2 separate regions of the Homo sapiens genome follow, and region 2 is linked to region 1. The links come from fine-mapping of genetic effects on gene expression. A gene starts in region 1. The other region holds a variant in brackets. All regions are shown on one strand. Distances are between the middles of the regions. Region 1 holds the start of EMC1 (ER membrane protein complex subunit 1). Region 2 overlaps EMC1 (ER membrane protein complex subunit 1).

The links. PIP is the estimated chance that this variant, and not a neighbour inherited with it, causes the effect.
Region 2: its variant is fine-mapped to the expression of EMC1 in whole blood (TOPMed, PIP above 0.99).

The regions. Positions count from the first base shown.
Region 1 is chr1:19,250,439-19,252,938 of GRCh38, reverse strand. It overlaps EMC1 (ER membrane protein complex subunit 1), which reads left to right and starts at 1,415. Exons shown (of 23, transcript NM_015047.3): 1 at 1,415-1,524. The coding sequence starts at 1,430. It overlaps MRTO4 (MRT4 homolog, ribosome maturation factor), which reads right to left and starts at 1,134. Exons shown (of 8, transcript NM_016183.4): 1 at 1,076-1,134. The coding sequence starts at 1,103. RefSeq lists an enhancer at 997-1,502.
Region 2 is chr1:19,225,149-19,228,164 of GRCh38, reverse strand. It overlaps EMC1 (ER membrane protein complex subunit 1), which reads left to right. Exons shown (of 23, transcript NM_015047.3): 18 at 715-852. All of the region lies in intron 1 of EMC1-AS1 (EMC1 antisense RNA 1), which reads right to left. Among named protein-coding and RNA genes, the nearest start is that of EMC1-AS1, 16 kb to the right of the region's middle. The variant A/G (reference allele first, on the strand shown) is at 1,545.

The DNA of each region.
Region 1 (2,500 bases):
GTCGGGTGTAGTGGCTCACGCCTGTAATCCCAGCACTCAGGGAGGGTGGTTGGAGCCCAGGTGTTCGAGACCAGCTTGGCAACACACTGAGTCTTCTCTATAAAAAATAAACAAAAAAAACCTAGCTGGGTGTGGTGGCGTGCGCCTGTAGTCTCAGCTACTCGGGAGGTTGAGGTGGGAGGATCGCTTAAGCCAAGGAGGTCAAGGCTGCAGTGACTTATTTTATTTATTTATTTTTGAGACGGAGTCTCGCTCTGTCGTGCCCAGGCTGCAGTACAGTGGAGCGATCTCGGCTCATTGCAACCTCCGCCTCCCGGATTCAAGCGATTCTCCCGCCTCAGTCTCCCAAGTAGCTGGGATTACAGGCACCTGCCACCATGCCCATCTAATTTTTAGTATTTTTAGTAGAAAAGGGGTTTCACCATATTGGCCAGGCTGGTCGGGAACTCCCGACCTCAGATGATTCGCCCGCCTCGGCCTCCCAGAGTGCTGGGATTACAGGCGTGAGCCACCGCATCCGGCCTGCAGTGTTACGATCGCGCCACTGCACTCCAGCCTGGGCAACAGAGCGAGACCCTGTCTCAGAGGGATCCTATTAACTGACAACTAAGAAGGCGCAAACCATACGAAGATGTAAGCATGCCAGGCAGAAACAACCGCAGACACACAACGCCAGACACGGGAACAAACCTGTGCTGAAAGAAGGGAAAGGCAGCCAGGGTGGCGGGAGCGCAGGAAGATGAGAAAGGGCCGAAGTTGGGAAAAGTGGGCCGAAACGGCAGCAGGCATAGCCGGGGGCGGTGTTCAGGAGCTGCCTCCCGACCCAGTTGGCCTTGCAAGAGCACCTGAAACTAGGCAAAACGAGTCTCCGCTCCCCAGACCCGACCGGGCGTCAGCCACCTCTGGCGGTTTTACAGCCCCGAAGCCCCCATTCCAGCTCGCAGCGAGGCAGCGGAACACCTCGAGGATGTCCTGGCGTTCCAATCTGCGCCCCCGCCGCCCCGAAGCCCTCACCGCAGGCTGGGTAGCCAGCCCACGGAGCTCCCCCCAGGGTCCCGACTCCCCCTTCGCCCACCTTTCTTGTCGCGCTTGGATTTGGGCATCGCGCTGAATCCACGTGCGGCGGAAGACGGTGCACCCCGTTAGGACCCCGGCGGCGCGGGGGACTCTGGGACGGCCCTCGGGGGCTGCCCCTCGCGTGTGCCTGACCCAATGTGCACTGCAGCCTGCCTCTCCCTGCCAAGCCGCCGCCTGCGCTTTCTCCCGCGCCTGTAGGGCAACTTCCCGTGTGCCGAGGCAGTCCCTGAATCCCGAGCGTCCCGTCCGACCGAGGGCCTCGCGCGCTATCCCAGCTCTGTGGTCCCGCGGAGGCGGAGCCCGCGGCGCGGTGCATGCCGGGACGGCGGTGGGTGGTGCATGCGCTCGCATCATGGCGGCTGAGTGGGCTTCTCGTTTCTGGCTTTGGGCTACGCTGCTGATTCCTGCGGCCGCGGTCTACGAAGACCAAGTGGGCAAGTTTGATTGGTGCGTACGTGTGGAACATATTCGAGAGATAAGTGGCTGTTTCCCCAGTACCTGTCTCCTACCTGCTAAAGGTTGTCACTTAACAGGATTGGCCGCATAATTTGCAGGACCCAGTACAAAATGAAAACGTGGGGCCCCTTGTTAAAAAATTATTAAGGATTTAAAGTCGTTGGAAGCAGAGCCTTAAACCAAGTGTTAGGGGTCATTCTAAGCTGATCCTTGCGTGTAAGCCGGCCCTGCCATCCAGGAATGCTTGGGGTGCCGGTCAGAGATCACTGATCCCGTCCTCCCTCGTCAGGTTCGATTTTTTTGACTGTGAGGTTTCTGGTCTACCAGGTGTCAGAGGTCGCCAAGCTGTCAGTGAACTTTAATTCCTACTCGAATTGGTGTCTTGTAGGCAAGTGAACAGGAGCTTTCGTCTTAAAAGTCCTAAACTGAGTCCTTTTCCCCTCTCATCAACCTAGTCTGGCCCTGGGCTCACAGCAGGATTGCCCAAAACACTAAGCAGCTAGAATATGCCATTCACTCATTCATTCATTCACCCACCCACGTCTTCCTTAAGGCCCTGGAGTAGCTTGCTTTTGTTTGAATTTTACTAGTTAAGACTTGTGTGATCTTGGGGAAAGTGACTTAACCACTCTGTGCCTTGGTTTCTTTGTCTGTAGAATGGGTTTACTAACAGTCCGTTATCTCTTACAGTACTTGTGAGAATGAATGAGACAATCCCATTAAATTACTTAGCACAATGCCTGGCTCATTGAATGCAGTCATTAAGCGTTATCTGTTATTATTGCTATTTACACTTTATTCTTCAGGGCCCAGGTCAGATTTCTCCTCCTCTGAAGTATTTTCTGTCTTGGAAAAGTTGATTCGCATATATGTTGAGTACCTGTTATGCCAGACAGTGTGACAAATAAAACATGTTACATTTTTAATGATGTGCACAACTGTTCACAATGTCATATGTGTATGTTAC
Region 2 (3,016 bases), 25 kb after region 1:
GGTGCAGTCTCGGCTCACTGCAACCTCCACCTCCTGGGTTCAAGTGATTCTCTTGCCTCAGCCTCCTGAGTACCTGGGATTAAAAGCATGCGCCACCACACCCGGCTAATTTTGCATTTTTAGTAGAGATGTGGTTTCTCTATGTTGGTCAGGCTGGTCTCAAACTCCCGACCTCAGGTGATCCACCTGCCTCGGCCTCCCGAAGTGCTGGGATTACAGGTGTGAGCCACCACGCCCGGTCTAGTATCTATCTTAATCAAACCGAGAGTTCTGAAATTTCTTCATAAACTAGATCTCTATTGCTGTTTTTCTGGTTTATTTTTTGTTTTGAGTCTTGCTCTGTCACTCAGGCTGGAGTGCAGTGGCGTGATCTCAGCTCACTGCAGCCTCTGCCTCAGCCTCCCGAGTGGCTAGGATTATAGGTGCCTGCCACCACATCTGGCTAATTTTTTGTATGTTTAGTAGAGATGGGGTTTGGCCATGTTGGCCAGGTTGGTCTTGAACTCCTGACCTCAAGTGATCCGCCCGCCTTGGCCTCCCAAAGTGCTGGGATTACAAGAATGAGCCACTGCTCCTGGCTCATTTTTCTAGTTCTGATCTCTATTCCTTCCTGCACAAAGGCCTCAAATAATGAACTGTAGGATGTGTCTAACTCCAGCTGTTTCAGTTCTAAGTGTACCCTCCTGATTACAGGCTTTTTTGCCCCTGCCCTAGGATCTCACCACTGAGCTGAGTTGGGAGCTGACCATTCCCCCAGAAGTACAGCGGATCGTCAAGGTGAAGGGGAAACGCAGCAGTGAGCACGTTCATTCCCAGGGCCGTGTGATGGGGGACCGCAGTGTGCTCTACAAGGTACATACAGCCAGCTGTCTGGTCTACAGCAAGGGCTTTCGAATCAGGAAAACAAGGGCTTCAAGTCTGGCTGTAGGACTTGGTACATATATGACCTTGAGTAAGTCATTTAATCCCTTTGAGCCTTAATTTTTGTTTGTGAAATGGGGATAATATACCCTCCTCCTGGGCTTGTTGTGATGATCACATGGGATGTTCATGTCTAGCCCAGTGCCTAGCATATGGTAAGTAAGCAACAGATGTTAGCTCTTATTTTTTTGACTTTTTTTTTGTTTGTTTGTTTCCTGTGACAGAGTCTTGCTCTGTTGCCCAGGCTGGAGTGCAGTGATGCAGTCATGGCTCACTGCAGCTTCGTCCTCCTGGGCTTATGCAATCCTTTCACCTCAGTCTCCCAAGTAATTGGAACCACAGGCACATGTCATGCTAATTTTTTAAAAACGGCTGGGCTTGGTGGCTCATGCCAGTAATCCCAGCATTTTGAGAGGTCGAGGTGGGTGGATTACTTGAGTCCAGGAGTTTGAGGCCAGCTTGGGCAACATGGCTGAAACCTTGTCTTTACCACCCCCAAAAAAAAAAAACAAAAAAAACAATTAGCTGGGCATGGTGGTGCATGCCTGTGGTCTCAGCTACTCGGGAGGCTGAGGTAGGAGGATCACCTGAGCCTGGGGAGGTTGAGGCTACAGTGAGCTGCA[A/G]TTGTGCCGCTGCACTCCAGCCTGGGTGACAGAGTGAGACCCTGTCTCCAAACAAACAAAAAAAATTTTTTTTAAATTTTTTATTTTTGTAGAAGATAGAGATCAACCTAGGAAACATAGTAAAACCCTGTCTTCAAAAAAAAATTTTTTTTTAATTTTTTATTTTTATATTGACAGGGTCTCACTATGTTGCCTAGGTTGGTCTCTATCTCCTGGCCTCAAGCAGTTCTCTTACCTTAGCCTCCCAAAGTGTTGAGGTTAGAGACTTGAGCCACTGCGCCTAGCCCAGCTCTTATTACTAGTGGTAGTACTGATAGAGCATTCTGGGGTTAAACCATAGTCGAGCCATCAGAAACTCCATCTCTGTGATCCAACACTCTAGTTAGTGTTAAAGAGAGGGAGATTAAGGTGACTAGTGGGCTGCAAAACTGTTATGGGAGAGAATGTAATGATAGTAGTAATGCACATTAATTACACCCTCTGGTACAGCAGAGACTGAATTGGAGGGGGTGTCATAGAATAGAGATCACGGAACTTGACGGTAAAGCTGGATCACTAAGCATGAGCCAGTGCAACACAGTGCAAGCCTCTAGTTTGACTGTTAAGACTTGGCTCTGCCGTGGCCTAGCTGTTCATCTCTTAGGCTGCCTGAGCTTCAATTTTCCCCAGTATAATGGGGATAATAGCACCAACGTCAGAGGATTGTTTTGAAGATTAATGATAACATGTAAAGTGATTAGAATAGTGCCTGCCACATACTTAACATTATTATTAGTGCTATTGACTCTTTTTTTTTTTTTTTGAGACAGGGTCTTGCCATGTTGCCCAGGCTGGAGTGCAGTGGTGTGATCACAGCTCACTGCAGCTTTGACCTCCCGGGCTTAAGCAGTCCTCCCATCTCAGCCTCCTAAGCAGCTGGGACAACAGGTGCATGTCACCATGGCTTATTTTCTTTTCTTTCTTTTCTTTTTTTTTGAGATGGAGTCTTGCTCTTTCACCAGGCTGGAGTGCAGTGGCACGATCTTGGCTCACTGCAACCTCCACGTCCCAGGTTCAAGAGATTCTCCTGCCTCAGCCTCCCGAGTAGCTGGGACTACAAGCGCGCACCACCATGCCCAGCTAAATTTTGTATTTTTAGAGATGGGGTTTCACCATGTTGGCCAGGATGGTCTTGATCTCTTGATCTCGTGATCTGCCCGCCTTGGCCTCCCTAAGTGCTGGGATTACAGGCGGGAGCCACCGTGCCCAGGCACTTATTTTATTTTCTTTAGAGATGGGGTCTTGCTGTGTTGTTCAGATTGGTCTTAAACTCCTGGGCTCAAGCAATCCTCCCATCTTGGCCTCCCAAAGTGTTAGGATTACAGGCATGAGCCACCGCACCCGGCCAGCAGCAAGCAGTTTTTGAGTGCTAGCTGGATGCAGGCACTCATTTAGACACTGGGATATAAAATGGGCAAAACAGACAAAACTTC